Linked DNA regions of Homo sapiens: all the other regions are linked to region 3. The links come from fine-mapping of genetic effects on gene expression. A gene starts in region 3. Each other region holds a variant in brackets. All regions are shown on one strand. Distances are between the middles of the regions. Region 1 has its middle 44 kb from the start of LEP. Region 2 overlaps RBM28 (RNA binding motif protein 28). Region 3 holds the start of LEP (leptin).

What was found. PIP is the estimated chance that this variant, and not a neighbour inherited with it, causes the effect. A credible set is the group of variants that fine-mapping cannot tell apart.
Region 1: its variant is the best candidate, but not a certain one, in a credible set for the expression of LEP in whole blood (INTERVAL, PIP 0.77).
Region 2: its variant is the best candidate, but not a certain one, in a credible set for the expression of LEP in monocytes after LPS (Fairfax 2014, PIP 0.71).

The regions. Positions count from the first base shown.
Region 1 is chr7:128,280,185-128,291,310 of GRCh38, reverse strand. No RefSeq gene overlaps it. Among named protein-coding and RNA genes, the nearest start is that of LEP, 44 kb to the right of the region's middle. The variant A/G (reference allele first, on the strand shown) is at 3,133.
Region 2 is chr7:128,293,984-128,305,109 of GRCh38, reverse strand. It overlaps RBM28 (RNA binding motif protein 28), which reads left to right. Exons shown (of 19, transcript NM_018077.3): 19 at 1-7,425. Among named protein-coding and RNA genes, the nearest start is that of RBM28, 44 kb to the left of the region's middle. RefSeq lists an enhancer at 5,600-5,894. The variant A/C (reference allele first, on the strand shown) is at 7,039.
Region 3 is chr7:128,235,358-128,246,483 of GRCh38, reverse strand. It overlaps LEP (leptin), which reads right to left and starts at 5,206. Exons shown (of 3, transcript NM_000230.3): 1 at 5,178-5,206. RefSeq lists cis regulatory regions at 5,252-5,260, 6,752-7,157, promoters at 5,178-5,424, 5,178-8,128 and enhancers at 7,080-7,115, 7,093-7,152, 6,752-7,157, 9,250-9,389.

The sequences.
Region 1 (11,126 bases), 45 kb before region 3:
ACCAACTATTCCTCCAAAAATTAAAAATAGAAATATCATGTGATCCAGGAATTTCACTCTTCAGTATATACTCAGAAGAACTGGAAGCAGGGATGTGAACATAAATGTGTACATCACTGTTCATAGCATTATTCACAGTAGTTAAAAAGGGGAAACAGCCCAAATGTCCATCAACAGATGAATGGATGAACAAAATGGGATATTTAAGTTATGTACAATGGAACATTATTCAGCCATAGAAAAGAATGAAATTCTGATACGTGCTGCAACATGGGTGAACCTTAAAAACACTGTGCTAAGTGAAATAACCCAGACAAAGGGAAAATATAATATGATTCCACTTGTATGAAGTACCTAGACTAGGCAGATTTGTGAGCGACAGAAAGTGCCACAGACGTTACCAGAGGCTGAGAGTAAGGGGCAATGGGGAGGGAGGTATTGTTTAATGGGTACAGAGCTTCAGTGTGGGAAGATGAAAAAGTCCTGGAAGATGAAAGAAAAAATTCTGGAAAATTATAGTAGTGATAGGTTACCTAATATTGTGAAAGTACTTAATGCTACTGAATTATACACTAAAAAATTGTTAAAGTGGTAAATTTTGTTACATGTATTTTACTGGAATGAAAACAATTAAAACCATCTATAAATCATGGTATCCAGAGGAAACAATAAGTATTTTGGCTGATTTTAACACTTTTTTTCCCCTGTAGATATGTGTTTTATAAAATTTGGCTAATAATACTATGCATGTAATCCTGAGCTCTTGAATTTTACATTTTAATTGTATTTTCCTTATCATTAAATACAATGAAATCACCACCTTTAATGGTTGCATAATTTAACATTATATGGATGTTCCATGTAATGTTAAATATGTGTAATGTTCCATGTCATTTAATTGTATTTTCCATGTCATTAAATATAATGAAATCATCACCTTTAATGGTTGCATAATTTAACATCACATGGATGTGCCATGATTCCCTTTAGACATTGAGGCAGTTTCTAATTTTTCATTACTATAAATAATGCAGTGATGAACATCTTTTTGTTGTTTTTTGAGATAGAGTCTTGCTCTGTCACCCAGGCTGTAGTGCAGTGGTGTAATCATAGTTCATTGCCAGCCTTGAACTCCAGGGCTCAAGCGATTCTCCAACCTCAGCCTCTCGAGAAGCTAGGACCACAAGTGTGTGCTACCATGCCCAGCTAATTTTTTTATTTTTTGTAGAGATGGGGGTCTCCCTTTGTTGCCCAGACTGGTCTCAAACTCCTGGGCTCAAGTGATCCTCCTGCCTTAGCCTCCCAAAGTGCTGGGATTACAGGCATGAGCCACTGTCCAGCAATGAACATCTTTGTAGATAAACATTGGCCTTTCTAATTAATTCCTTAAGATAGATTTTTAGAAGGAGAATTACTGAGTCAAAGGGTATGAATTTTAAAAAGCCTCTTTATACATAGCACCAGATTATATTCTAAAAATTGTAGAAATTTATACCATGTATGGTATTATGGAGGGACATACAAGGATACAAGTTTTACTGTACCCTCTCATGATTAAGTTAATTTGAAAGGCAAAAAGTGTCTTCTATTTATATGGATTTGATTACTAGCAAGGTTGGATCTTTTGTATGTTTATAGTCATGTGTATTCTGTGTGAATTGTCCATTTTCTTCACCCAATTTTCTTTCTTTTGTTTTTTTGAGACAGAGTTTTGCTTTTGTTGTCCAGGCTGGAGTACAATGGTGTGATCTCGGCTCACTGCAATCTCTGCCTCCTAGGTTCAAGCGATTCTCTTGCCTCAGCCTCCCGAGTAGCTGGTATTACAGGCATGTGCCACCATGCCTGGCTAATTTTGTATTTTTAGTAGAGACGGGGTTTCTCCATGTTGGTCAGGCTGGTCTCAAACTCCCGACCTCAGGTGATCCACCCACCTTGGCCTCCCAGAGTGCTGGGATTACAGGCATAAGCCACCATGCCTGGTCTTCTTCACCCAATTTTCCAGTGGGGTTTTAAGGTTCTCCTTACTCATTAAGAATAGTGGCCATATTGTCATTTTGTAGCAGTTCAATTTCCAAGTTTGCTGTTTACCTTTTAATTTTGGTAGACCTATTTTTTATATAAAGTTTGATTTTCCTTTTCGATTTTTTCCATTGCTTTTATGCTTATAAAGTTCTTACTGCTTTTAAAAAATGTTTTATTTTTTAAAATTTTTAGACTCCTCTTGCTATCATTCCCAAAGTTTCTTACTGCTTTTGCAAGTACAGTATATACATTTTTTTACCTATATTTCCTCTGAATTTTTAACATGGTTCTATAATTAGACATTTGTATTAGTGTCCTAGGGCTGCTGTAGCAAAGTGCCACAAATTGGGTGGCTTAGAACAACAGAAATGTATGGTCTCACAGCTCCGGAGGCTGGAAGTCTGAGATAAAGTGTCAGCAGGGCCGCTCCCTCTGAAACCCATAGAGGAAAGATGCTTCCTTGCCACTTCCAGCTTCTGGTAGCCCCAGACTTCCTTGGCTGGTAGCAGCATGGAGCTCCAGTCCCTGCCTCTGTCTCCACATGCCATCTTCTTATAAGCATGTAAGTCATATTGGATTAGGGGCCTACCCTACTCTCCTATGACTGCAATTTAGCATAATTAATTGCATCTGGAATGAAACCGTCTCCAAATAAGGTCACATTCTGAGGTGCTGGGGGTTAGGACTTCAACATATCTTTTTTTATGGACATAGTTCAACCCATAACAGCGTTTAACTCATCCACACAGAATGTACTTATTTGAATGTGAGATGTGAGAGTATGTCCCCCCAAATCGTTAACCAATTTTCTCTGTACCACTTACCAAATAATGCCACCTCACCTCACAGCAGTGCAATTCCATCTTCATTAGACACAAGCCTCTTGTACGCGAACTCCTGCTTGTAGATATGACCCCACTGATGTGTCTGCTAATTCTTGCATCATGGCTACACTATTTTCATTATTTTAGCTTTATTGTATATTTAATATCTGATAAGGCAAAATTCCTCCTTATTCATCTTCACATTTTTTTTCTCAGCTATTCTTGCCTATGTATTTCTTCTGAGTAAACTTTAGAAGAACTGTGGCATGCTTAACAACAACAAAGC[A/G]GCAAATCTCCTTGGACTTTTAATTGGATTGTGTTCAACCTACAGGTCAACTCTGCAGCACATGCAGCCTTTCCATTTGGGAACATGGCATGATTTCCCATTGAATTAATTATTTCATGGGTTTCTAAAAAAGTCTACAAAGTTATAAGAGATAGTTTCCATTTCTAACACTGGTGCAGTAGATTTGAGGTGTTTTTGTTATTGTTGCTATCTCTGCTTCCCCATCCACCCACCCCCATTATATCTTCTAATTGGTTATTGCTAGTTGATGAGGAAGCTATTGAATTTTGCATCCAGCCACTTTATTAAATTTGCCTGTTCTAATAGCTTTTCAATTTATTCTTGTGGGCTCTCTGGAGCTTTTTGCATAAACCAATTCAAATGAATAATTAACTCTCCAGCTGAATCAGTGACCTTCCCTAAATCAGGCCTCTTGTGAATTTAGGGAATTTGGCTGAAGGAGAATGCCGTGTAAATGCGGTGTGCAAAGGGGCCTTGGAAAATCCTGGTAGCCTCAAGAATGCTCATATTCTTTAATTCATTATTTCACTCAAGCGATGAATCATTTCACTCAAAATCTTTCACTAAAAAAAGGGATCAGAGCCAGGTGCAGTGGTGCACGCCTGTAATTCCAGCTACTCAGGAGGCTTAGGCAGGAGGATTGCTTGAGTCTAGGAGCTCAAGACCAGCCTAGCAAGACCTAGTGAGACATAGTCTCTAAAAATATGAGAAAAAAAAATGATCAGAACTGTGAATGAAAGAATTTAGGTATCAGGCCATGTATTAACGTTTATAATAATGAAAATTGGAAACAATCGGATGATTAACATTAGCGGATTTCGGCTGGGTGCATGGCTCACATCTGTATTCCCAGCACTTTGGGAGGCCAAAGTGGGAGGATCACTTGAGGTCAGGAGTTTGAGACCAGCCTGGCCAACATGGTGAAACCCTGTCTCTACTAAAAATACAAAAATAAGCTGGGTGTGGCAGTGGGAACCTGTAACCCCAGCTACTTGGAAGGCTGAGGCAGGAGAATTGCTTGAACCCAGGAGGCGGAGGCTGCAGTGAGCCGAGATGACACCACTGCACTCCAGCCTGGGCAACAAAGTGAGACTCTGTCTCAAAAAACAAACAAACAAAAAAACCAACCAAACAAAAAAAAAACCATTAGCAGATTGTTTGAGTAAATGTTCACGTGGTTTTCACCTCAGCCTCCCGATCCCCTTACTCTGCTGACTCCATCACAGGCCCAGATGTCTCCCTCAGACTCCAGCCTCCAGCCTCCCAAACCCTGCCCACTGTGGAGGCTCTGACTGTTGCAGAGGCTGTCCAACCACTACACTCCCAGTCAGAGCTCAGCCTCTTGGTGGAGGTCAGGTTCCTCAACCTTGGGCAGGTTCTTGGCAAATGCTGTGAGGTGCATTTAAGTGCAGGAGATGACTGGGGAGGACTCGGGAGAAGCATCCGAAGGGAGTGAGGAAAGCAGACCAGGCAGAGGGAGAACTTGAACTTCGACACACGGAGCCATCAGCTGGTCCCACAGCTCTAGAGCTGAGATGATCCTTCAGAATTGCTCCAGAGAGACTCTGGGAGCTGGGCTCTGGTATGCCCGCACCCACCAGTCACTGGATGGCGACTCTCCTTGGAGAGGGGATGTGCCTTTAGGGGAGGACAGTTCCTGGAGAGGGACCCAGGTATGAGCAGCCAATACGCCCTCAGGGAACCAAATGCCTCCATTCTGAAGGGGCACCTGGGTGGCACCTCACAGCATTCACTGCACCCACTGTGGTGGGTTAAAATGGCCACACGTTCTTTGCTACTCCTTCCATTCAGAGTTGGAGGCTGTTTCTCCTTTTCTTAAATATGGACTGGATCAGTGACTTCTTGTACCCAATAGAACGTGGCAGAGTGACTTTGTGTCATTTCTGAGATTGGGACTTGGAAGATATAGAGCATCTGCCTTTGATTCTTAGAATACACCCTCTGGGAGGCCACCCCATTGAAGAAGTTCAGCTATCCTAAGACCACCATGCTGTGAGGAAGCCCAAGCTAGCCACTTGGAGAGAGAGGGGCCATGTGGAGGAGCACCAAGGTGCTGAGCATGTGAGGGACACATGGACCTTCCAGACCAGCCATTGGCTGGGCACAGTCAAGAGAATGGCCCCAGGTAAAGTTGTGTGGAGCAAAACTGCCCTGCTGAGCCCTGACCATTTCTTGGCCCACACAATCATGAGAAATAATGAATTGTTATTTAAGGCCACATTTTAGGGAGGTTTTTAATGCAGGAATACAGGGAAATGAAACACTTTCTGGCTCACTCTTTTTCCTACATCATCTGTCCCAGTTTGTGGCACCATGATCCACAATCATCCACACTAGACACTTCGGTTGTAGGAGACTTCTCCGCTCTCACCTCTATGCCATGTCACTGGCCAAGCTCTGCCGATTCTTGGGGAGGGTGTAAAATGTTACTCCTAAATAATTCCTGAGACCGCCCCACCTCGACCTGCCTGTTGCCAGCACATTTGCCCAGATTCTCAATCTTCTTGCCCTGGACAGGTGCCATGGTTTCCACACCAGCCATCTCAAACTCCAGCCTTGGCCAGAGTCACCTCCCTAACAGGCATGTTGCCCTCTCCCTGACCTAAAGCCTCATGGTGGCTGCCCATCAACTGTGGAATAAAGGCTCAACTTTAGCCTGATGCACTAAGAACTCTGCCCATTGGGTCCACGCTTGCTTGACCAAATTTCCCTGCTCTTCTAACTTAAAACTTCAGGCTTCAGCAACAGAGAGCTCTGCTGGGTTTTGCCACTCATATGCGATTTCTCCTTTTTGTGCTTCTCTCCAGAATGCCACCTTCTCTCTCCTCCTTCCAGCTGATTCTCAGCTCAGCAATCACGCTTTCTGGAAACCTTTCTCCTTTCCTCCCCCAGCATCTACCACACTTGCTGGACTGGGGGGCCCTTTCTGGGAGTTCATTGCCATCAGATTTGTGTGTCAAAGAAACAGCCACATTGGAAAGGAGTTTTACACCCCTTCCCAAGCTAGACTGGGCGGGGACTGGGGGACTGTGAGATGGCTGCCAGGCCCAGATGGAGGCTCTCACGCAGTGGAGGCCCTAGGAAGGAGAGGGAGGCTTCTGGCCTTCATGGAATTGAATTGAATTCATCATACATTTCTCCTTTCCTCCTCCCTCCAGCCCCAGCTGACAGCGGGGCCGACAGGTGAATTCAGGGACCAAAGCTGTTTTGTGTTTTTTTTGAGATGGAGTCTGGCTCTGTCACCCAGGCTGGAGTGCAGTGGCGTGTTCTCGGCTCTCTGCAACCTCCGCTTCCCAGGTTCAGGTGATCCTCTTGCCTCAGCCTCCTGAATAGCTGGGATTACAGGCATGCACCACCACGCTGGGCTAATTTTTGTATTTTTAGTAGAGACAGGGTTTCACCATGTTGGCCAAACTGGTCTCAAACTCCCGACCTCAGGTGATCCGCCCGCCTCAGCCTCCCAGGCTCCCTTAGAGGCATGAGCCACCACGCCCGGCCAAGGCTGTTATTCTTTTAACAAAGTTACTGATTTTCCTTCAGCCCACTGTACTGGAGTCATAACAACCAGTATTTTACATCTGAGATGTAGGTTCAGTTGCTACAGTATTCGTGGCTGTAGAATTAAGTGGCTGTAGTATTTAGGACACATAGTATTTCATATCTGTAATATTTAGTTACTCTAGTATTTAGTTTCAGGTATTAGCCCCATAGGACTCAGTGGCTATCATATTTGGAATCGATCGTATTTCGCAGTCATGCTATTTAGTGGTTGTAGAATTCAGTGGCCTCCTGAAATCCAGTGACTAAGAGTGTGCTCAAGTTTCCTTTGCTGCTGCTGGACAAACTGTCGTCCCAGCAGTTCTGTCTTTCCTGTCAGTTCAGCTGCTCCCTGAGCCGATGTCCTCTGCTCATAAGCAATTTTTCAGTCCCTTGGCAAGTCTTCATTTAAAACTGCACTTCTCTGCAGCGCCCGAGAGATTTTTCTTCTGTTTTTCAAAGTTCAGCTGTTTCTGAATCATTTTCTATACTTCTCTCCTCCCTCCACCCCTCCCTTTGCTGCAAAATGAAGTTCTTTTCAAAGTGGAATTTTTGGGGTTTTTCATGCCGTGCCTTTACCTACAGGACAAGAGAGTGATTTGGCTTTGTGACCAGAGAGGGCAGGTGCTTGCCCAAAGGGATCGGTGGGCACCAGCTCCAAGCAGGTGAGGAGAAGAGGGCGACTGCTGTGACTACGGTCCATCATTTGTGGCAGGCAATGATGGGTGGTGGGCCCAGGCTCTGAGGACTGAAAGAAGGCTGGTGGCTCAGGCCCACCCTGGCCAGTGGTGTCACCCTGCATCCTCTCTGACCTGAAGGTGCTGATTTATACACGAAATGGTAATAACCTCCTCTCTGAGTGCTGTGTAAGGCTGAAGCAAGTCCAGCTACTTGGAAAGTGCTCAGCACGGTGCCCAGCACTCAGAGCTGTTGCAGTAGCTGAGTGAGGGCTACATGTGTGGCCAGCTGCGCTTGCTGCACAGCAGGGTCGGGGTCATTTAAGAAGCAAAGGAAGGCTCTTCCCACCTATTCTCCACGAAGAGAATAGAATGCTATCCACTGGGCCAGGTGCAGTGGCTTACACCTGTAATCCCAGCACTTTGGGAGGCCAAGTCAGGAGGATCGCTTGAGCCAGGAGTTTGAGACCACCCTGGGCAACATAGTAAGACCCCATCTCTACAAAAAATTTTAAAAATTAGCCAGTGTGGTGGTGCATGCCTGTAGGCCCAGCTACTCAGGAGGCTGAGGTGGGATGCTTGTGTGAGCCTGGGAGGTGGAGGCTGCAGTGAGCTGTGATCATGACTGCTCAAAAGTCATGGCTCTCTGTCTCAAGCCCCACCCCTCAAACAAAAAACAAAACTAAAAAACAAAAAGAAGAAGAAGAAGAAAACCATCAACTGAGAGCTGGGAGTCCTCTATTAGAGAGTTAACTGTACTGATACCTTCTTTCTTCTCCATTTTAAACTTTTCTTTCTTTTTTTTTTTTTTTCCATGACACAGCTCCAGGAGATCCTGAGAACAGATGCCCCTTAAATTTAAAATCTGTCTGGAAGGGGAACATATCAGGTCTCCAACCGATAGGTTGAAACATGCACACACCCTCTTCTTATTTCTTTAAAATCAATTTTGCTTAATTATACAAATACTTATTGAGCACCTGCTCTATATGAGACACTGGGCTGGGTATAGCAAATCCACATTTGAGTAAGAAAAACATGATTTCTGCAACTTGAAAGAACCTTCATCATTCTTTCACTCTCTGGGCTGACTGAGAGAATTTCTTGGGTCCCCATTTGGGTCCTTGGAGGGATCAGACTTTTCTAGTTGAGATCTGGTCCCACCCCCTGCCTTCTGGTCTCAAACCTTTTCCTCTGAAGCCTCCTCTCTCAGATTAGTCTCAGGCCAGGAGCTGTGTGTGGCGGCCATCCGGGTTGGGCCCTGTGAACTGTCCCAGCCACTCTTCATTTTCTTGGGTACCCTTTGTCCTGTGATCTGGGACACCTCTGAAGAGTCTGATCATTTCAGACTCTTATGACAATTTAAGAATTGCAAATGGAGACATTTAGCCTGGTCCCTGGGGTGGTTTAGATTCTCAATCAAGTCCTTTAGCCTTATTGATTAAAATAGAGACATTTACTATCACAAAATGATGCCCCCAAACAGCCTCAAACCTGACACATTAGTTTCCCTTTCCTGCCTCTGCCCAAAATGAATGTTTTTCTTTCTCTTCCCTTGGGTTCTTCTCTCCCTCCCCTCCTCTTCCCTCCCTCTCTCCCTTCTCTATTCTTCCCTCTCCCTCTCTATTTGTCCTTCTCTGCTCCAAGTCCTGCCACAACCCCAGGATTCATCAGCCTCCCTGGACACATCCCATCCAGCTCCTGACCGCTCACCTCCTTCACTCCTCATCCTCAGGGCCCTTTCCTCCATCTGCCTCAGCCCATGCCAGCGGCCATGCTGTGCACCTGGAGGGGCCACCCACCTGCCAGGAAACAGCACATTCAGCCATGCACCTGACTGCAGCCTCCACTCTAGCAGATTAGCTCAGTCACCTGTGACACACTGTTCCTCTGGCTCTTTGGGACTTTCAGCCCATGGACACCTCCATGCCCATCCCACAATCTCTGTTTCTCCACATCTCTCCCTTTCCATCTCAAATCCATGCTCCAGCACCAAACACTAACTCTTTCCATTCTAAACTCCCTCTCCCCATTGTTCTTCCCTTACAGGCACCTGGCAAAACTCCAGTCCTCAACAAATGCAGCCAATGGCGTTTGCTAATGCCAGCAGGCCTGGCCCTGTCCAACTGTGGTCTCCTCCCTCAGCTGGGCCTGCAGCAGCATCCGGCAACCCTGCTGCTCCTAGTTCAGCTCTTGCTCCCATCCTCCTCAAAGACCACACTCCACATCCTCAGACTCTGACAAGCAGGCCAACCCAGTGGTGTGCTGGCAGATGCTTAACAACAGGCTCTAGAGGAGGTGGGGAAAGCCCTGATTTGTAGTGTTTGCCCATTCTTGTGGTATAAGTATTCTCACAAGAATCTGAATATGAGGCCAGACTCAGTGGCTCACACCTGTAGTCCCAGCACTTTGGGAGGCCAAGGTGGGTGGATCACTTGAGGCCAGGAGTTCAAGATTATCCTGACCAACATGGTAAAACTCTGTCTCTACTAAAAATACAAAAATTAGCTGGGTGTGGTGGCACATGCCTGTAATCCCAGCTACTCGGGAGGCTGAGATGGGAGGATCACTGGAACTGGGAGGTGGAGGTTTCAGTGAGCTGAGACTGTGCCACTATACCCGAGACTGGGCAACAGAGTGAGACCCTATCTTTAAAAAAAAAAAGTAATTAATAGCCTATCAACCAAAAAAAGCCCAGGACCAGACGATTCACAGCCAAATTCTACCAGAGGTACAAAAAGGAACTGGTACCATTCCTTCTGTGTTGCAGGAATTCAGGGACCCCGAATGGAGGGACTGGCTGGAGCCTTGGCAGAGGACATAAATTGTGAAGATTTCATGGACATTTATCAGTTTCCAAATAATACTTTCATAATTTCTTACTCCTGTCTTTATTTTAATCTCTTAATCCTGTTATCTTCGTAAATTGAGGATGTACATCACCTCAGGATCACTGTGATGATTGTGTTTACTGTACAAATTGATTGTAAAACATGTGTGTTTGAACAATATGAAATCAGTGCACCTTGAAAAAGAACAGAATAACAGTGATTTTAGGGAACAAGGGAAGACAACCATAAGGTCTGACTGCCTGTAGGGTCAGGCAAAAAGAGCCATATTTTTCTTCTTGCAGAGAGCCTATAAATGGGTGTGCAAGTAGGAGAGATATCGCTAAATTCTTTTCCTAGCAAGAAATATTAATATTAAGACCTTAGGAAAATAATTGCATCCCTTGGGGGAGGTCTATAAATGGCCACTCTGGGAGTGTCTGTCTTAAGTGGTTGAGATAAAGCCTGAAATAAGGCTCTGGGAGTGTCTGTCTTAAGTGGTTGAGATAAGGCCCTGGTCTCCTGCAGTACCATCAGGCTTACTAGGATTGGGAAACCCCAACCCTGGTAAATTTGAGTTCAGACTGGTTCTCTGCTCTTGAACCCTGTTTTCTGTTAAGATGTTTATCAAGACTATATGTGCACTGCTGAACGTAGACCCTTATCGGGAGTTCTGATTTTGTCCTTGCTGTGTTTCCTCAGAAGCATGTGATCTTTGCTCTGCTTTTTACCCCTTAAAGCATGTGACCTACTCCCTGTTTGTACACCCCCTCCCCTTTTGAAATCCCTGATAAAAACTTGCTGGTTTTGCAGCTCAGGTTGGCATCACGGTCCTACCGCTATGTGATGTCACCCCCAGCAGCCCAGCTGTAAAATTCCTCTCTTTGTACTCTTTATTTCTCAGACCAGC
Region 2 (11,126 bases), 59 kb before region 3:
TCAGCTCACTGCAACCTCCACCCCCCAGGTTCAAGCAGTTCTTCCTCAGCCTCCGGAGTAGCTGGGATTACAGGCGTGCGCCACCACGCCCCACTAATTTTTGTATTTTTGGTAGAGACGGGGTTTCACCAGTGTTGGCCAGGCTGGTCTCGAACTCCTGACCTCAGGTGATCCACCCACCTCGGCCTCCCAAAGTGCTGGGATTACAGGCATGAACCACCGTGCCCGGCCGTGATGCGCAACTTTCTAATAACATACTTTTGAAAGTGCCCAGACATACATCCCTCCTCTGGTACCACAGTGGCCATCAGTTGCCAGAGAACATGAAATTATCCAGCCCTCAGCTCTGCAGCAGGATTCTGAGGAGTAAAGCAGGCCTGTAAAGTACTCTAAAGTACTTCAGAGAGGTAATGCCACAAAGCGAAGAACACCTCTTGGAGGCAGAGCCCCTCAGCCCTATCCAGGCCAGCAGTGTCCACTTGAAATCTGAAAGCAGCCTCCCTCACCAAACCAGCAAGATGGAAAACCTCCCTGGGTTGGCAAGTGGCCCTGGGAAGTACATGCCCCATCTCTGTCAGGATAGCAGTGGAGAGGTTTCGTGCCAGTGCCAGCTCCACCCACCCAGATGGTACTCAAGACTCCAAGCCTGTCAATGGGGTGGAAACTTTCTGGCATTTTCTGTCAGAAGGGTGAGTTAGCACTGAACCATCTCATGTGTCTTTTCACTGAGTAACAGCCCATATCCATTCCATGAAATGAGTGACTGCTTTGTTGAATCAGATAGTAACAAACATTTATTTGTAGTCTGGTTGTGTCATATCATGGTTGAATTGCAAACAGGTTGGATAGAAGAGTCAGCAAAAATCAACAAAAGCATTCTGTAAAAAACTTTTCTAGAATTACAATAAATGGCATTGTATATTTTATTTATAAATTATGTGCTGCACATCATTTTTATCAATGAAATTTATAATAAATTTCTGTACATATATACATTTTTATCCCAGAGAGCCAGTTGTTAAGCATTTACCAGCAATAAATGCTTTTTGTTTCCTGCTTACACAGGTTCTGGGAGTGGCCAGCCCACTCTTTGAGATGTCCCCACTTGCTTTTTTAGTTGTCCAAGTAGTGTTCTGCCCAGCCTTCCCGACTCTCTTTCTTATCCTTCCCTCGAAACTATTCTGTTCCTTATGCTTAAATACTTTCCAGTCATGGGAGCTTTGCTGTAGGCCCTTGGCCTTTCATGGGTAGCTTCTGATACGTGCATGGGTGTTAATAGAGGAAGTTGACCCCGCCTGGGAAGAATAATGACCTATGGAGACCTGGCCCTTTCTCTTATGGCTTCTTAAAGTGACAGCTGTTATGGGAAGTTCAGGCATCTTGACGTGGAAAATACATTGTTCATTTTCTTTTAATTTTTTTTCCCCTAACCACTATACCAACAGGGATGGAAAGATACTTTTAGTTGGAAGGAATTTGGAGCCCTTAAACGACACCTGGAGCAGCTGCCTGTGGGTGGGGCTTTGCACAGTCTCATCCTGGCAAGGGAGGACGAGCCAAGGACCAGTTTTGCAGAATTGTCATCATGAGGCCCTGGTTGTGTGCTGGGCTGGGGCATTGCCCCTTTCCAGGAGGCCAGGCCAAGCAGGGCTGCCTGGCTTAGGCTTTTGCATCTTCAGCATCCTTTCACGTCTCTTATCTCAGGTGACCTTCACAGCAAGCCTGGTGAAGGTTATTGAGAAGCAGATGTCACCACCTAGTCTTAGAGCTGATGAAAGCAGGATGTGGGGAAGTCCAGACCCTCTCCTGAAACCCCTTGGCCACCTGAGCTAGTACCAGAGCAAGGTCCCACTTGGCCGTGAGTGCTGTCTCTAGGGCCTATTTCAGGAACTGTCTCATATATAAGAACAGAACACTTTTTGCCAGCTATACCAAATGTTTTTGGGATTAAAAAAATAGTTTCTCTTTTCCAAATTAGGTGGTAAGAAAAGGAAGGGCATTTTCATTCTCACATTCTTTGAATGTTGAAACGTTTTAAAAACTTCCAGCTGGGCTTGGTGGCTCATACCTGTAACCCCAGCACTATGGGAGGCTGAGATGGGAGGATCCCTTGAGGCCAGGAGTTCAGGACCAGCCTGGGCAACATAGTAAAACTGCCCAAAATTTGAAAATTAGCCTTGTGTGGTGGTGTGCACTGTAGTCCCAGCTGCTCGGGAGGCTGGGGCAGGAGGATTGCTTGAGCCCAGGAGTTTGAGGCTGCAGTGAGCTATGGTTGTACCACTGTACTCCAACCTGGGCAACAGCGTGATACCCTGTCTAAAAAAATAATAAAAATAAAAAAGGATTAAACCCTTTACTTGACCAGCTTCTTTTCCTGCTACCCCTGGACTAACTAATCATTACATATTTTTGTAGTTGTTTTTTCTTTCTTTCTCTCTCCTGATCTACCACAAGCCAAATGTACTCATATACATACTAATAGGTGAAAAAAGAGAGTCTGAGGAGTGAATACATTTATTTTGTGATTTCCTAGGCAGTAGCTAGGACTCCCTTAGAGGTTGCTAATAGGGAAAGGGTGCGCTGGCTCTACTCAGTTTTATAACTGCTTTTCCCCGAATTCTGCAGACATCTTCATTCCCCTGGAGGTCAGATAATGGCTATTTATTTTCCATAGCCATGAAAATCTCTGGGGAGAGCTGTGGCAATTTGACGAGAGCTATTAAAGGGACATTAGGATTGAAGTAGCTGCTCAGGCAGTCACATACCCTCGATCCTCATCTGCAGGGACAGCTGCCAGAACGAATGAGCCCAGCTCTCCTGCCCGCAGCCAGCCGCGTGTGGGTGCAACTGGCGACCAGCCACTGGAGTGAGTCCCAGGGAAGGGGACAGGTTCTTAGAATCACCATTTGTCTCTGCTCTCTCCCTCTCTGCAATAGGACGGGCACTCTAAACTCACATAATGGTTAATAACAACAGCTAACAATTACTGAGCACCTACTATGTGTCAGGCATGTGCTGAGGATGATCGCATCAAGTAAAATGCCTGTCTCTGGCCCAGAGGCCCAGAAGAAGAGAAAGAAGGGAAATCTGTAGGAGGCAAACAGTCCCTTACCCCTCTGCTTGCAGACCTTCAGTGACAGGACACTCCCTGTTTGCTCCAAGCACCTCTTGCATTTTCAGAGCTTGGGACACAGATTCAGGGACTTGCACTTCGATAGAGTGCCTCAGGACCCCTCGTCGGAGCCATGGAAAGTCAGTTTCTGGGCCCATCCTTCCTGTGGGGGTGTCTTTCCTTCTCTTGGCCACCCCCTAGGAATCCCTAGTAGAGAGCAGGCACTTAATAGCCAGTGCAGTGAGAGTGGTCTGTGATGTCTGGGCCAGGGCAAGGCCCGCCAAGTGGGCTCCCAGGTGCCTGCCACAGAGCCTCTGGGGTTTGAGGCCCTCAGTGACCCTTAGGCAATAGCTGGGTCTTAATGAGGGATCATGTCCTTTCCTGGGTAGTCGTGGGTAGAGGGGTGTGAACTGATCTGAGCTACTCTAGGAAGGCTAGAGACAAAAGCAGGAACCAAGAGAAGGGCTGAGGCTCCTTCCAAGAGACTCCAAGTCCTGAGGGCAAGAAGCGGAGAGCCTTGTGCCAGGCCAGGTGTTGCCCCTGTCAGTGCTGACGGACAGGCAAGAGAGGCTGCTGATGCTGCAGCCCTGTGAAGCTGAGACTCACCCTTTGCCCACTTTCACAGCCATCTCCCCAGGAGGCTGTGGTGACACAGGTAAAAGCCAAAGGACAGAGGATGACCCTGGACAAATCACTCAGACCCTCCAGTCCTCTTTGCTCATTTATAAAATACAGGCAAAAAGCCCCCTAGTACTAAATGAAATAGCCACTGTAAAAGAGCACGGGAGATAGGGTCTGTGATGTCTTTTGTCCCCAGTGTCCTGAGTGAATTCACAGGAAAGGGGAGAAAGACTGGTTGCCCACTTCCAGGGTGATTGGCTAATTTCCACTTCTTTCCTGCTAGGGATGGGAACACACGCCAGAATCCTGGGAAGGCTACATGTCCTCAGGTGGTGCTGGCCCCACCTCCAGCCTCTGCAGGGATACCAGGATATGAGCCAGGCTCTGCTCCCGGGGTGACCCATCCTCCTCAGTGCCCCTTCTTTCCTCACAACTGCAGGCAGAAGGAGAGTGTGTCCTGTCTCTCTGAGGAGCTGGCTGTGCCATTTAAGCAGGCCCTAGGGGTGGAGCGCTGTGAAGAGATGGCACCCAGGTCCCTGTTCCTCCTTTTCCAGAGCAAACACTGCTAAGGGATCATGACAGTCCCTGCATCTGGCCCAGACTGGGCCTTGGGAGGCTTTTGACATCAATCCATGCAACCGCACCCAACAATTGGAGTCAGCATGGGAGGTGAGACCCACTTGCCAATTTTGCTCTCAGGGAACAGCCCTCTTTACTAAAACATAGCACAGTATTGATAACAGTTGTTTCCAGGCATCGTAGAAAGCGTTTAGTGGGCATTAACGTCTTTGATCCTCACCACAAGGTCAGGGGTTGGATGATGTTAGCATGCTCATTGAAGGATCAGAAAAGTCAGGCTCAAGATAGCTCGCCCTTCATTCAGCCAGCCGGTGTTAACTGAATATTAACTGTGCACCCGTCTGTGCCAGTGTTCCCCCAGGAGCTGCAGAGGGTCCTGAGCAGAGTGAGCTCAAGCCACTTGGGAGCTCACATTCCAGCTATCAGTGCTGATTCATCTCAAATGTTTGATCCACGCTGGGTTCTAACCCTTCCCTGCTCAGAGCCCTCAGAGTCCAGGTCAGGTAGAACCCAGAACAGAGCCTCTGGCAGGAAGGAGCTTGCATGGTCCTCAGGCTTCATGTCCAGAGATCATTCCTCCACTTTGAGCTTCTTTGTGAAAACCAATCACAAAGAGAGGAGGGGTGAAATGTGCCAAAGCCTCTGCCAGGGTTGTAGCAAGGAAACCTGGGCTTCTAGGGAAAGTTGAGAAAGGGCCTATATTAGTCAGGAGGGCTACTGTAAGAGAGTACCACAGGCTGGGTGGCTTAAACAACAGAAATTTATCACCTTACGGTTCTGGAGGCTAGAAGTCTAAAATCAAAGTGTTGGCAAGGTTGGTTCCTTCATGAGGAATTTCTTGGCGTTGCCTGGCATATAGATGCATCACTGCAGTCTCTGCCTCGTTGTCACATGGCCATCTTCTCCCTGTGTCTATAGGTCTATGTCCAAATTTCCCTCTTCTTATAAAGACACCAGTCATATTGGCTTAGGCCCAGCCCAATGATTTCATCTTAATTTGATTACATCTCTGCTATGGTTTGAATGTGTCCCTTCCAAAATTCAGGTTATTGCCAATGTGATAGTATTGAGATGGGGTCCTTAAAGAAGTAATTAGGCCATGAGGGTGCCTCTCTCTGAAGGGAGGCTCATTGGATTGTATCAGTGTAACATAATTTACATAACCAGTTCTTTATGTGATGGAAATCCCATTCAACGGTTTCCAACCTTTGCTATTACAAACTGCTGTGAAGAGAAACATATGTCATTATACTAATCAGGTGCTGTTGTTGTTTTTATAATGCATTATCCTGGAGAGACTGCCCCTCCCAGGGCTAGCTACTTTGGGGAGAGAGTAAACAACTTGGTCGAGCGTGCCTTTCGTATGCAAACCAGTCAATCCAGAGCCCACACCCCCAGTCACCTCCTTTATCAAACTCTGACACAGCAAGCCAATATTCCCCCTGCCCTAAATCACTCCAGGGCCAGGCATGGGACAACTAGGGACAATCCCTATAGCCAGGGCCTGCCAAAGTTATACAGATTAGCCAATCCTAAGCCTGCTTCCCTGCCTTGCCTTGCCTTTCTGCTGGAAACTACATTAAAGGCGCTGGATCGTGCTTTTCCCTCACCCCCTCTGCTTCTTGGCTGACCCAAGTTCTTCCTGTGTGGCCCTGCAAGGCGTGACACACCTCTCCTCCTGGGAACTGCATAACAAACTCTTCTTGCAGAGATAGTTTTCTCTGTGTCTGTCATCTTACCATACCTGATGAAAACAAATATGGGTACATTTTTTTTTTTTTTTGAGAGAGAGGGTCTCACTCTGTCTCCCAGGCTGGAGTGCAGTGGTGTAATCACAGGTCACTGCAGCCTCGACCTCCTGGGCTCTAGTGATCCTCCCACGTCAGCCTTGCAAATAGCTGAGACTACAGGCACACACCACCATGCCTAGCTAATTTTTGGTGTATTTGTTATAGAGACAGAGTTTCGCTATGTTGCCCAGGCTGGTCTCAAACTCCTGAGCTCAAGTGATCCACCCACCTTAGCCTCTCAAAGTGCTGGGATTATAAGTGTGAGCCACAGCATCCAGCCATGGGTACATTTTAAAGCAGGCGTTTTGTTCATGTGCAGCCCTTGTTCTCAGTTAAGGGGAAAATGAGTGATCCTTTGCTTGGCTCTGAAGGAGCAGTGTTTTATATGTAAAGAATATATTCTGTATATTTAAAGAAGAGCAATGGGGGGCATTTGAAAATAAATCCGTTCATTTTTTTCTGATTGTAAAAATAATATATGCTCAGTAAAGAGAATCTGAAAAATACAGAAGTATTGGGGGAACCCACCCCCAATATTTCAACATAGGTTCTTTCTATTTTCCATAAGTGTCGGCCGACTGAGAAATAAAGAGAAATAGTACAAAGAGAGGAATTTTAACAGCTGGGCTGCCGGGGGTGACGTCGCATATCAGTAGGACTGTGATGCCCACCTGAGCCTCAAACCAGCAAGTTTTTTATTAAGGGTTTCAAAAGGGGAGGGGGTGTAAAACAGGGAGTAGGTACAAAGATCACATGCTTCAAAGGGCAAAAGCAGAACAAAGATCACATGCTTCTGAGGAAACAAGACAAAAGGCAAAACAGAACTACTGATAAGGGTCTATGTTCAACTGTGCGCGTATTGTCTTTTTTTTTTATTATTTAAGTTTTAGGGTACATGTGCACACTGTGCAGGTTAGTTACATATGTATACATGTG[A/C]CATGCTGGTCGCTGCACCCACTAACTCGTCATCTAGCATTAGGTATATCTCCCAATGCTATCCCTCCCCCCTCCCCCCACCCCTCAATAGTCCCCAGAGTGTGATGTTCCCCTTCCTGTGTCCATGTGTTCTCATTGTTCAATTCCCACCTATGAGTGAGAATATGCGGTGTTTGGTTTTTTGTTCTTGCGATAGTTTACTGAGAATGATGATTTTCAATTTCATCCGTGTCCCTACAAAGGACATGAACTCATCATTTTTTATGGCTGCATATGTGTATATGTGCCACATTTTCTTAATCCAGTCTATCATTGTTGGACATTTGGGTTGGTTCCAAGTCTTTGCTATTGTGAATAGTGCCGCAATAAACATACGTGTGTGTGTGTCTTTATAGCAGCATGATTTATAGTCCTTTGGGTATATACCCAGTAATGGGATGGCTGGGTCAAATGGTATTTCTAGTTCTAGATCCCTGAGGAATCGCCACACTGACTTCCACAATGGTTGAACTAGTTTACAGTCCCACCAACAGTGTAAAAGTGTTCCTATTTCTCCACATCCTCTCCAGCACCTGTTGTTTCCTGACTTTTTAATGATTGCCATTCTAACTGGTGTGAGATGGTATCTCATTGTGGTTTTGATTTGCATTTCTCTGATGGCCAGTGATGGTGAGCATTTTTTCATGTGTTTTTTGGCTGCCTAAATGTCTTCTTTTGAGAAGTGTCTGTTCATGTCCTTCGCCCACTTTTTGATGGGGTTGTTTGTTTTTTCTTGTAAATTTGTTTGAGTTCATTGTGGATTCTGGATATTAGCCCTTTGTCAGATGAGTAGGTTGCGAAAATTTTCTCCCATTTTGTGGGTTGCCTGTTCACTCTGATGGTAGTTTCTTTTGCTGTGCAGAAGCTTTTTAGTTTAATTAGATCCCATTTGTCAATTTTGTCTTTTGTTGCCATTGCTTTTGGTGTTTTAGACATGAAGTCCTTGCCCGTGCCTATGTCCTGAATGGTAATGCCTAGGTTTTCTTCTAGGGTTTTTATGGTTTTAGGTCTAACGTTTAAGTGTTTAATCCATCTTGAATTGATTTTTGTATAAGGTGTAAGGAAGGGATCCAGTTTCAGCTTTCTACATATGGCTAGCCAGTTTTCCCAGCACCATTTATTAAATAGGGAATCCTTTCCCCATTGCTTGTTTTTCTCAGGTTTGTCAAAGATCAGATAGTTGTAGATATGCGGCGTTATTTCTGAGGGCTCTGTTCTGTTCCATTGATCTGTATCTCTGTTTTGGTACCAGTACCATGCTGTCTTGGTTACTGTAGCCTTGTAGTATAGTTTGAAGTCAGGTAGTGTGATGCCTCCAGCTTTGTTCTTTTGGCTTAGGATTGACTTGGCAATGCGGGCTCTTTTTTGGTTCCATATGAACTTTAAAGTAGTTTTTTCCAATTCTGTGAAGAAAGTCATTGGTAGCTTGATGGGGATGACATTGAATCTATAAATTACCTTGGGCAGGATGGCCATTTTCACAATATTGATTCTTCCTACCCATGAGCATGGAATGTTCTTCCATTTGTTTGTATCCTCTTTTATTTCATTGAGCAGTGGTTTGTAGTTCTCCTTGAAGAGGTCCTTCACGTCCCTTGTAAGGTGGATTCCTAGGTATTTTATTCTCTTTGAAGCAATTGTGAATGGGAGTTCACTCATGATTTGGCTCTCTGTTTGTCTGTTATTGATGTATAAGAATGCTTGTGATTTTTGTACATTGATTTTGTATCCTGAGACTTTGCTGAAGTTGCTTATCAGCTTAAGGAGATTTTCGGCTGAGACAATGGGGTTTTCTAGATATACAATCATGTCGTCTGCAAACAGGGACAATTTGACTTCCTCTTTTCCTAATTGAATACCCTTTATTTCCTTCTCTTGCCTAATTGCCCTGGCCAGAACTTCCAACACTATGCTGAATAGGAGTGGTGAGAGAGGGCATCCCTGTCTTGTGCCAGTTTTCAAAGGGAATGCTTCCAGTTTTTGCCCGTTCAGTAGGATATTGGCTGTGGGTTTGTCATAAATAGCTCTTATTATTTTGAGATACGTCCCATCAATACCTAATTTATTGAGAGTTTTTAGCATGAAGGGTTGTTGAATTTTGTCAAAGGCCTTTTCTGCATCTATTGAGATAATCATGTGGTTTTTGTCTGTGGTTCTGTTTATATGCTGGATTACATTTATTGATTTGCTTATATTGAACCAGCCTTGCATCCCAGGGATGAAGTCCACTTGATCATGGTGGATAAGCTTTTTGATGTGCTGCTGGATTTGGTTTGCCAGTATTTTATTGAGGATTTTTGCATCAGTGTTCATCAAGACTATTGGTCTAAAATTCTCTTTTTTGTTTGTGTCTCTGCCAGGCTTTGGTATCAGGATGATGCTGGCCTCATAAAATGAGTTAGGGAGGATTCCCTCTTTTTCTATTGATTGGAATAGTTTCAGAAGGAATGGTACCAGTTCCTCCTTGTACCTCTGGTAGAATTCGGCTGTGAATCCATCTGGTCCTGGACTCTTTTTGGTTGGTAAGCTATTGATTATTGCCACAATTTCAGCTCCTGTTATTGGTCTATTCAGAGATTCAACTTCTTCCTGGTTTAGTCTTGGAAGAGTGTATGTGTTGAGGAATTTATCCATTTCTTCTAGATTTTCTAGTTTATTTGCATAGAGGTGTTTGTAGTATTCTCTGATGGTAGTTTGTATTTCTGTGGGATCGGTGGTGATATCCCCTTTATCATTTTTTATTGCGTCTATTTGATTCTTCTCTCTTTTTTTCTTTATTAGTCTTGCTAGTGGTCTATCAATTTTGTTGATCCTTTCAAAAAACCAGCTCCTGGATTCATTGATTTTTTGAAGGGTTTTTTGTGTCTCTATTTCCTTCAGTTCTGCTCTGATTTTAGTTATTTCTTGCCTTCTGCTAGCTTTTGAATGTGTTTGCTCTTGCTTTTCTAGTTCTTTTAATTGTGATGTTAGGGTGTCAATTTTGGATCTTTCCTGCTTTCTCTTGTGGGCATTTAGTGCTATAAATTTCCCTTTACACACTGCTTTGAATGTGTCCCAGAGATTCTGGTATGTTGTATCTTTGTTCTCGTTGGTTTCAAAGAACATCTTTATTTCTGCCTTCATTTCGTTATGTACCCAGTAGTCATTCAGGAGCAGGTTGTTCAATTTCCATGTAGTTGAGCGGTTTTGAGTGAGTTTCTTAATCCTGAGTTCTAGTTTGATTGCACTGTGGTCTGAGAGATAGTTTGTTATAATTTCTGTTCTTTTACATTTGCTGAGGAGAGCTTTACTTCCAACTATGTGGTCAATTTTGGAATAGGTGTGGTGTGGTGCTGAAAAAAATGTATATTCTGTTGATCTGGGGTGGAGAGTTCTGTAGATGTCTATTAGGTCCGCTTGGTGCAGAGCTGAGTTCAATTCCTGGGTATCCTTGTTGACTTTCTGTCTCGTTAATCTGTCTAATGTTGACAGTGGGGTGTTAAAGTCTCCCATTATTAATGTGTGGGAGTCTACGTCTCTTTGTAGGTCACTCAGGACTAGCTTTATGAATCTGGGTGCTCCTGTATTGGGTGCATATATATTTAGGATAGTTAGCTCTTCTTGTTGAATTGATCCCTTTACCATTATGTAATGGCCTTCTTTGTCTCTTTTGATCTTTGTTGGTTTAAAGTCTGTTTTATCAGAGACTAGGATTGCAACCCCTGCCTTTTTTTGTTTTCCATTTGCTTGGTAGATCTTCCTCCATCCTTTTATTTTGAGCCTATGTGTGTCTCTGCATGTGAGATGGGTTTCCTGAATACAACACACTGATGGGTCTTGACTCTTTATCCAACTTGCCAGTCTGTGTCTTTTAATTGGAGCATTTAGTCCATTTACATTTAAAGTTAATATTGTTATGTGTGAATTTGATCCTGTCATTATGATGTTAGCTGGTTATTTTGCTCGTTAGTTGATGCAGTTTCTTCCTAGTCTCGATGGTCTTTACATTTTGGCATGATTTTGCAGCGGCTGGTACCAGTTGTTCCTTTCCATGTTTAGCACTTCCTTCA
Region 3 (11,126 bases):
GACCCCATCTCTTAAAAACAAAAGCCAAAAAAGATAATGAAACAATCTCAGTAAACAGGGCAGCAAGAGAGGCTTATATAATGTGCCATCCACCCCACCACAAATTCTGCTGTCTACCTCCACCTGGGTCCTCTGCACCAGCCTCACTGTTACTTATCCTCAGGTGGACCCCACCCCCATCCTCACTTGGCAGTTGTGTGCAGGGCCCGCACCCCACCCTCCACCTCCTACCTCCCTAAGAAGCTGGTGGCCTCTAGACTTGAGCTCCATCACCTTCCCACCATTGCAGGGGACAAGGCAGATGGAGGCAGACCCTCCATCCTGGGGACCTCAATGTCAAAGTGGGAGTTAGGATGGGCAGAGATGTGTGCTCCTCTTTATTTTTTTTATTTTTTTATTTTTTTATTTTTTTTTTGACGGAGTCTTGCTCTGTTGCCCAGGCTAGAGTGCAGTGGCGTGACCTCGGCTCACTGCAACCTCCGCCTCCCGGGTTCAAGCGATTCTCCTGCCTCAGCCTCCTCAGCCTCCCGGGTAGCTGGAAATACAGGCGCCCACCACCGCACCTGGCTAATTTTTGTATTTTTAGTAGAGACGAGGCTTCACCATCTTGGCCAGGCTGGTCTCAAACTCCTGACCTCGTGATCCACCCGCCTCGGCCTCCCAAAATGCTGGGATTACAGGCATGAGCCACCGAGCCTGGCCCATCTGCTGCTCTTTAGATCCAGGCTGGAGGGCCTCCTGAGCCAAGATTAGGCCTGCCCACAGCCCTCTGATGACATCAATGGGGAGAACAAAGCGAGTCTTTTGTATGCTACTGTGAATTAAATTCAGGTAACATGGTATTTGCTATTAATTATGAGGGAAAAGCTTTAGCTAGTCTGAGTCCTCTCCCTATACACATTCTCCTGTGGGATCCCCTCCTGTTCTTCCCTCCCACCCTTCCTTCCTTCCTTTCTTCATAACTCCAAGTTGGAAGGGACTTGGGGATGAGAAAAGAACAAAGGAGGAAATAAAGGCAGCGAAGTTTGGATCTTCGTTCTCCAAGTTGCTCAGAATCTAGTGGAACAGACAGGACCTTGAACAACTCATTTTAACACAACCTGGTGGGAGTTATGAGGGAAGAAGCATAGAACCCAAAGAACAAAGGGGAAGAGGGACTCCGGGGATGGGAGGAGAGCTTTGCAAGGGAGGCAGTGTGTGAACTGAGGCCTGAAGGACAGGCGTTCCCCAGGGGAAAGAGGGGAAGCAGGGCATTCCAGGCCAAGCTCCGGAGTTAGGGAAAGCCATAGTTGGTTTGGGAAGATTCAATATGGTAGAGGGGTGGAGTGTGTGAGGCTGGAGAGCTAAAATTTTGCGGGCTTAAGTCTGTTTAGTAGGGACCTCCTGGGAGATCTAACCTACCCAAGAGACACACATACACACACACAGACACACACACACACATACACAACCCTTGATGGCTATGTTTGCATTTACACTCCAGCCCCCTTGGCTACAATTGCCTGGCCAGTGGTAGGCAAGAGACGAAGAGGCTCTTCTCTCCTCCCTTTCCTCCTCCCTTCCTTCTCCTGACCCTGATTGGGTCAATCAACTTCTCTCTTAGGAATTTAGAGTGGGGCTGCAGAGAGTCCAGTTCATCTCTGTTGAGGGCTCAGAAGCTCTAGGGTAGCCACATTTGGCCTCATATGCATGGAACAGCTGAGAGAGACCAGAGCCCACATAGCCACTGAGCCAGAGTATGGTCACCGCCTGTGCTCCTTCCTAGCCTTCTTTGTGGTTCCTGGGTCCTCGTGAGGCCTGGTGGCCCTCCCTGTCCTTAGCCTTCAGGGTGAGATACTCTTTTCTTATACTCACTTGGATAGCTTTCAACTTTCTAAATATATTTTTCATTTGAGACAGATAGATACATGTAAGAGAAATAAGTGTCAAGAAGTAAAATTCACCCTTACCGTGGGTAATGCACTCTTGAGAGTCTCGGCTCTTTTTTCAAATGTTGATCACAATAAACAATTTGAAAAACACAGGGCCAGCGTGAGTGATTTTCTCTTATTTGCAACCAAAAGCCTCATTTGAGAAATCGTGTTAACATATGTAACCAGCAGAGAGGGTGTGAGTACAGGGGTTACATTCTTTCTGTTCATCAGAAAGATCTGATCTCATCAGAGATACAGATAGGTTTCTACTCCTGTTTCAGCTCTAATCTGTGTGTGTGTGTGTGTGTGTGTGTGTGTGTGTGTCAGGGTCTTGCTCTGTCACTCAGGCTGGAGTGCAGTGGTGTGATCAAGGCTCACTGGACCCCCGACTTCCCGGGCTCAAGCAATTCTCCCACCTCTCAGCCTCCCAAGTAGCTGGGACTACAGGTGTGTACCATCACATCCAGTTACTTTTTTTTTTTTTAATAGAGATGGGGTTTTGCCATGTTGCCCCAGCTGATCTGGAACTCCTGGGCTCCAGTGATCCACCTGCCTTGGCCTCCCAAAGTGCTGGGATTATATGCGTGAGCCATGGTGCCTGACTTCTGATCAATTGTTGAGGCTCCCTCGAGCTCTGTGTGAGGGGCATCTGAAGCTCCAGCAAGACTCAGAAGGAGAGGTTGCCCTGATCAATTAATGACACCTGTATCTCTGTACCTGTTCCAGCATCTATCACAGGCCTGGAACACGGCAGGGCTTCGTTAAATATCTGTTGCATGAATAAATGAAAGATTTCCCATTCTCGATCTGCATTGGCTAACTAGGGTAACCTGCCTCCTCAATGGTTCGCTTGCTCCCATCTTAAAGTCGCATCCTAGAATTCACTTTGGCCCAGCAGGAATTCTTACGGAGTTGTCTTAATAAAGACAGAAAATGCTTCAGCGTCCAGGTCTCCCTCTCTTGGGGACCTTGGTCTGCTTCCTGCACTTCCTATGTGCCCTCTAGCACCCAGGTGGGCCAGGATTCCCTTCAGCTTCCTAAGCTGTGCTCCATCTTGACTGCCGTCCCTGGATACTCCCGCCCGTGGCCCCTTTCATGAGCCTGGCTCCTGCTCCTGCACTCTGGGACCCCTCCCCTTCTCAGAGACCCCTGCCCTGCCCTCCCGTCTTCTCTGCGGTTTCTCTTCTCTTCCTTGGCAACCCCCCAGCCTGGAGCACCCCAGAGCAAATGTAATGTACACCCAGATGGAGACTAAATCTCCTATGATATTAGTGAAATGTTGGTATGGGCATTGATTATAAATTCCATTCCATAGAGCTAACAAACTGAGCAGGAAAGACGGTAACATGCTGTCTGCTAAGCAACGAGGCACATTGGCTGTCACACGTGGAATAAGTGCAAAGGAGTCTGTGGGCCCAGACACCAAGTGTGTTGTTTTTAAGCAGAAACAACCTCTCTGTTTCTCTGAGACAACTGTGTGGACAAAGAAGAATTTCAAGGCTCTCTGCCGACTGGCCAGAATGGAGCTGCGGCTGCCAGACTCCTACCCCGGTGGGGATGGGGTAACTGACTGCCGGAAAATTTGGCTCAATTTTCCTTTAAATCATACCAGTGCTGTTCACAGATGCACAAGACACAAGGACTCTACCTTCCTGGAGCCCCTCTTCTCTCCTTGGCTCCCACGCCCCTGGTGGCATCTAAGCGGGGGTGGGACATTGACCCAGGTTCCGTGGCGGCCACCTCCACGCTCTGCATGGGCCACTCAGACGTGCAAGGCATCTGCCTGGGGCTGACGGGCAGGAATTCATTGCAACTTCCCTGGCTCTGTCCTTGGCACTTGGAGCCATTTCCTGGAATGGACGGGGAGGAAAATATTTCCCCAAATACCAAGAAGAGTTATTTTGGGTATAAAATGTACAAAATATGAGGAGGACGCTCCTTTAGCCAATGTGGAAATGTTCCCCTCAGCCCAATGTCCACAACTGCTTGGGAAGGGAAAGAACCTAAAAGCATCCACTGTTTCTCTCTTGCCTTGTCTCCCTGCCTAAGTGAGAGAAATGATCAGTGTGGCCTTCTTGTTTCTAAGGGCATTAGAACAGGAGCACTCACGTTGCTAGAAGCCTCCATATCTGGTTCTGCAGACAATCCTAATATGAAAGAGATTGGCAAAATTCCCCAGTTCCAGCTGCCCATGGCCCACCTCAGAATCCTACAGAACAAACACAACTCCGGCTGCCAGAGGTCATTCTGCACTGCAAAGGAAGAGAGCCTGTGCTCCTGGAACGGTACCACCAAGTCTCTGCTCTTCACCCACCTCCCCAAAGATCACCCTTCCAACAGAAATTAATCACCTCTTGGAAGCTGCTATTCTGAAATGACAGCCAGGCCACTTGTCTCACTTGGACCTAACTGTATTTAAGGAGTCACTTTCCCAAAGCACCACTATCTTTAAACTATAGAAACAGGAGTGTAAAGGCGATGGCACCCACAGTGAAATCCAAACCAAGCCCAGACTGAAGGAAGGCTATAGGTGAGCCTGGTGGGCCAACAGCGCGTATTTAGCAGTCCTGGCTAGAAGTTCCCTAATAACCAGTTCTGACCCCCAGAGACACCTCATTGTATGCATTGCAAAGAAGGCAATTTGCATGGCTTTGAGGACAGATCTGGTAAGACCCTGCACAATTTCTCTGGAAGATTTTGAGTCTTCCTGACACTTGTTTCCCCCCACCTCTACTCATCCTTGCCTTCCTCCCAGGCATTGGCCTTACACAGCCCCTCTCATTCAGAGGTCAGGAACTTCCCTGGAAAATGAATCCTGAATTCCTACCCGCAGAGCAAGGCAATGTCTGGGACTGAGACTGATCACTTGCATCTGCGTCTCTCCTACCCCCAACTTTATCTCCTTCAGACTGGGGTGGGACATCCTGATCTTTGGGGATGTGCCCAAGGCAATTTCCAATGCATCTCAGCTCTGCGAATGCCACCAGGTTGGTGGGTCTGACAGTCTCCCAGGGACCTGGCTGGTTCTGCAAGGTCCTGCCTTCTGGGCACCGGCACAGCCCAGCAGCAAATCCAACGCTCCCCAGCTCCCGGTAACCTTCTATCTGGCTAGAACTCGGTACAAAGCTATCATAGTCCAGAACTAAGCCATCCGCCCTGCATCCCTCCTGACTCAGTTTCCCCGGGATCCAGAGTTGTGTGGGGCCCTGTGGCCTGCCAAGAAAGACCAGCAGAGAAGGAGGAAGGAGCGCGCCGGGGCCTTACCTTGCAACCGCTGGCGCTGCGATTCCTACGGGGCTCCATGCCTGCCCGCCCCTCTTATAGCGGCCCGATCACAACTTGCGCAACTGCCCCGCAGGCCCCGGCGCATTTCTAGCGCCAGCTCCCGCCCCGCCCCTCAGGGTAGCGACGTGCCGGGCGGCTGCTAGCCCTGGGCCCGCAGTGTGCACCTCGCGGGGCCTCGAGGGAGGGCCTCGGCGCGCCAGGAGCCACGCGCGCACCCTTGGGTACCTCCCAAAAATTTGGGGGTGGCTGGTAGGAGCGAGAAATCCTTGATGTCCCTCCAGAGGCTCCGGCGCGACTATGGCGCAAGGACCAGCCCCTTGGGAAGGTGCTTCGAGCCGCGCGGGGCGCGGTCGGGGCGGGGGTGGCTGTGAGGGGCTCCGCGGAGCGGGCTGGGGCATACGGCTGCGCCCTCGTTGGTCCTGGCGCGGCTTCGGGGTGGGAGCGAATCGGGACTCGGCCCCGACGGCCCTGGACGCCAGGGAAGCCCAGGGTTAGAGGGAGCGGCCCGCAGTGCGCCAGGCTCCCCGACCCAGATTGCGGGGTTGGGGGTTCTGAAGTCCCACCCCTTCTCTGGCACGCGGAGAATCGAGTTCCAAGCCTCAGGGCAAGTTGTCTCTGGCTGGCACCCCAGGGAGTGCACGCTCTCTGGAGGGCTCCAGGCGGGCACTGTGGCCTTTGGGGACACTCTGGACATACTGTGGGTCTCCATCCTCAACTCCGTATTTCCTACGTACAAAGTGGGGGTTGGGGGGTGGTCCCAGATGTAGCCACGTTTTTGTCATCATAGCCTGTGAGTGGTGTGGTAGGCATGTTTCACCTGTATCGTTTGTAGTTCCCCGCTTTACATGATGGGTTGGTTTGTTTTGTTTTGTTTTGTTTTGTTTTACCCTTGGGCTTCAGGGATGAGGAATCTAAGGTCCAGCGAGGTTAAATGACTTTCCTTAGAATCCACAGCTGGTAAGGAATAGCAATGGGCTAGGAACCCAGGCCTATTCTGGTCCCCACTGCGCAGAGCAGCTCCAAAAACAAACCACTCCATTGAGAACCAACCCAGCCAGGCGTGGTAGCTCAAGCCTGTAATCCCAGCACTTTGGGAGGCCAAGGTGGGTGGATCACCTGAGGTCAGGATTTCGAGACCAGCCTGGCCAACATGGTGAAACCTCATCTCTACTAAAAATACAAAATTAGCCAGGTGTGGTGGTGAGTGTCTGTAATCCCAGCTACTTGAGAGGCTGAGGCAGGAGAATGGCTTGAACCTGGGAAGTGGAGGTTGCAGTGAGCCAAGATCAGACCATTGCACTACAGCCTGGGCAACAAGAGTGAAACTCTGTCTCAATAAAAAAAACAAAACAAAACAAAACCCATAACATAAAGCGGGGAACTGCAAATGACGTTGGTGAACCGAGCCTGCCACTGCCGGGTTTGGTAATGCCCAAAAGCTAAGAATGGTTTCTACATTTGTAAAAGTTTGAAAAAAAAAAATCAAAAGAAGAGGCCAGATGCAGTGGCTCATGCTTGTAATCTCAGTATCCCACGTTGGGCACCAGATATTGGGGGAACCTGCCCCCAATATTTCAACGTAGGTTCTTTCTATTTTCCATAAGTGTCAGCTGGCTGAGAAATAAAGAGAGAGAGTACAAAGAGAGGAATTTTACAGCTGGGCCGCCGGGGGTGACATCACATATCGGTAGTACTGTGATGCCCACCTGAGCCTCAAACCAGCAAGTTTTTTATTAAGGGTTTCAAAAGGTGAGGGGGTGTAAAACAGGGAGTAGATCACATGCTTCAAAGGGCAAAAAGGAGAACTACTGATAAGGGTCTGTGTTCAGCGGTGCACGTATTGTCTTGATAAACATCTTAAACAACAGAAAACAGTGTTCGAGAGCAGAAAACTGGTCTGACCACAAATTTACCAGGGCGGAGTTTTTCACCACCCTAGTAAGCCTGAGGGTACTGCAGGAGACCAGGGCGTATCTCAGTCCTTATCTCCATTGCGTAGGATAGACATTCCCAGAGCGGCCATTTATAGACCTCCCCCCAGGAATGCATTCCTTTCCCAGGGTGTTAATATTAATATTCCATGCTAGCAAAAGAAATTAGCAATATCTCTCCTACTTGCAGGTCTATTTATAGGCTCTCTGCAAGAAGAAAAATATGGCTCCCTTTGCCCGACCCCGCAGGCAGTCAGACCTTATAGTTGTCTTCCCTTGTTCCCTAAAAATTGCTGTTATTCTGCTCTTTTTCAAGGTGCACTGATTTCATATTGTTCAAACACACATGTTTTGCAATCAATCTGTACAGTTAACACAATTATCACAGTGGTCCTGAGGTGACGTACATCCTTAGCTTATGAAGATAACAGGATTAAGAGATTAAAGCAAAGACAGGCATAAAAAATTATAAAAGTATTATTTGGGAACTGATAAGTGTCCATATTAAAATGAAATCTTCAAAATTTATGTTCCTCTGCCACGGCTCCAGCCGATCTCTCTGTTCGGGGTCCCTGACTTCCTGCAACATCTCAGCACTTAGGGAGACTGAGGCGGGAGGATCAGCGCAACCCTGTCGCAAAACAAAACAAAAGAAGAATAGTTCTCATGGGAAAATTACAGGAAATTTGCATTTCTGTGTCTATAAAGTTTTGAATTCTGTCAACAAAAAATTGTGTAAATTGTTTATTCTTGTTGTATAAGTACCCATGTAATATCCTCAATTTTGCCTTGGCTTAGAAAGCCTAAAATGTTTTCTACCTGGCCCTTTAGAGAAAGTTCCCAGCCCTTGAACCAGGGAACACACATACATTGCACATTGATTCCTCCAGGCCTTTTTTCTTTCCAGTCCGTCTGTGGGGATGCCCAACTGTGCATCCATCGCTTCTCCCGGAAGAATCTCCCCATTCCACTAGGGCCTCTCCATCCTTAAAGAAGCTTTTCCTAGTTCCCCTTGCAGCTAATTCCTGTCTCTCAGTCTGGGTTGGGTGCCCCTTTCCATCTCCTCCCTTAGGTTTTAAGAGGACAGGGATTGGGCCATCAACTGTTTCAGTCCCGGTACTTTTCCAGTGCCAAGAACACATGGGTGCCCAGGGAAAATTTGCTGAATTGAACCCCAGGAACAACACACACCATAGAGATGATTTTTGTTATGTGTTATATTCATGTACCACTATACAGGGATTCCTCTAGACGCAAGGCCACTGGGAAGGTAAATGTTTAAAACTTGGGAAAACACACCTGCAGTGATGATGCGGAGGGAACAGGAAAAGCCAGGATCACACAGGTCCTGGAGACCACAGTCACATTGCATTCGAGGCTTCCTAATGGAAACATGTTTCCCAGAGAATGTGCATTCTTTGAGTTGGTAGGAGTCTATTTGGTCATTGCTATGCTCCTAGCTCATAGCCTGGTGTCTAGCTCAAAGTTTTTTAAATGAAAAATTTAAACATACAGAAAAGTGTGCAATACTATAGTGAACTACAATATACCCATCACCTAGATTTAATAATTATTATTTTCCATATTTGCTTCATTAATTATTTTGGCAAAAACATTTTAAAGTGTATTGCACACATCATGACATTTTATCCCTACTTTGGTGCTTCCCAAAAAATAAGGAAGAATTTCTGTGTAACTGCAAGACCATTATCACACAATAATAATTCCCTAACATCGTGAAAGCTAGTCTATACAAAATTTCCCCAAATATCTCCCTCTTCCACTATAGACCTCCTTAAACAAAATAATGAAAAATGAATAAACCACAAATTTTAGTGGATGTTTTCATACCTCCATCAGGACATCAGTGGCAGTATTTGGGAAGTTTTAAAAGGTGGTCTTTATAGCATCTCTTCCTCCAGTCAACAAACACACAGTCTTATATGTTTGTGAGATACATAACACACTATGCCTAAAACTTAGTGGCTTAACCCAAGACTATTTATTTAGCTCATAATTCTGTGGGTCCAGCAATATGGCCTGACTCATGCCTGTGGTGGCTGGCTGGCTATCAGCTAAGATGATGAGGGTAACTGGTCTAGCCTGGGCTTGTTTACATGGTGACAGCTGCTGGATTCCCTAGAGCAGCAAAAGATGGCAAACCCCAATGAGCAAGCACTTTTCAAGTCTCTGCTAACATCCTGTTTCCTGTTGACCAAAGCAAGTCACATGGTCAAACCCAGAGTAACTGGGAGATTACCCAACCCAGCAATAGAGGGAGGCACCACTAGATTGGGACCTTACTGTAATCAGCCCATCACGGGAAAGGGTGTCACACTGAACTTATGACAAGCTTAGCCAGCAGCAAGTATCAGCACAGGCAGCTAAGTGGCTACACAGAGAAAAGGGCAACTCAACAAGGGCAGGAAAGGATACAGAGAGGCCAAGTCAGCCAGAATGGAGCTTTGAGGAGTGAGAGAGAAAATCCTTGCAAAGAAAGGTAACAAGCAGCTGGGTTTTGAAAGGCCTTCGCAGACAGTGGGAGCCATTAAAGTCACCAGAGGAGATTCACGTGGTCGAGTCACCACTTTGGAAGATTCAACTGGCAGAGACATATAGGAAGGATTGCAAGGAATAAAACAAGGATTGCAAGAAATACAGGAAGGATTGCAAGAAATAAAAATCAAGGTGACAAATTATTAAAACTTACTTATTTGCCCATTTTTTCATGCATTCATTCATTGAACCAAGAGGCATACATTGAAGGCATACTGTGCACTGGGTACTATGCTAGATCCTAGAGATTCCAAAATGAGAAAGGTACAGCCCTGGAGCTCAGCAGTGACTCAGGAGCATGAGTGAGGGGTAGTGGGGAGACAGAAAAGACAGATTCAAAATAAATTTTGAAGAAAAGAACACCAACCCTCTTTGCCCTAGGGAAAAAGTGATCATATTTCCATACACTTTCCCATCTACAGCTCAATGCTGCTCGTAGAGACACAGAAGGAGTGGGTGAGACTAAGATGCTTCATGTGGACATGGTTGCTGAGGACACCCAGCTGCTGGTATTCAGCAGTTAACTGGGGCTACAGTCCAGGTAAGGGACCAAGGATAGAGACACAATCCAGGCACGCTCTGCAAGGACACAAAAGATGACTTCTTTTGAAATCAGGGTTGTGGGGACCAGCAGGCTCGGGCCAGTGAAACATTTTATAATCTGCAAGGATTTGAGCAGATCAGTACACAGTGAAGGGTGTGGAAAGGACAGAGTAGAGATGGGAGTTTGCTGGTGTGAAGATCAGAAAGAGCTCGGTGGAAGCCACATGCAATAGAGGGCACATTGGAGCTTAGCAGCCCATATAAGTGTGGGGAAAGAGTCCTGCAAGGGACAAAGCAAGAACAGTGACTTTCCCCTCCCTGTAATTATTTAATTGCCCAAATAATCATGTGCATTGCAGAAAATTAGAAAAGGCAGAGAAGCAAAGCCATGAGAAAAAGTCATCCCTCATCACACCACGCTGAGATAACCCCTGTTAATATGTTTGTGCTGATCTGCCTGGACTTGGTAACAGCCTCTTACATCCTCGGTTGGAAGCCAGCCTGGAAACCCTGAAGAAACAAATGACAGCCAAGAGGACAATGGCAACCAGCTCCCCCTCTGGGCGGCATGCTCTTTCTCTCACTTGGTTGGTCTTTCCCATTGGAGCGGAAGGACTCGAGCCATGATCCTTTGTAGAGCTGGACCCTGCCCAGGTACCCAGGGCTGCACAGGCATTTGGAGAGATGTTCTGGAGAAGCAGCAAGAAGCCTTGTGCCCTGCAGAAAGCTGTGATCTGACACATCCTGAGGCGTCCCAAGTCTCCAGCTCTACGTTTGTCCCTAAAGAGGTGTTTTGCCAGACTGCTTGCATAAGCACCTCTAGATAAGCCTCTAGCAGCAAGATTATGGCTCAGTAGGATTCACCACTTGCACCTGCAGCTGGAGTAGGAAAGAAGGC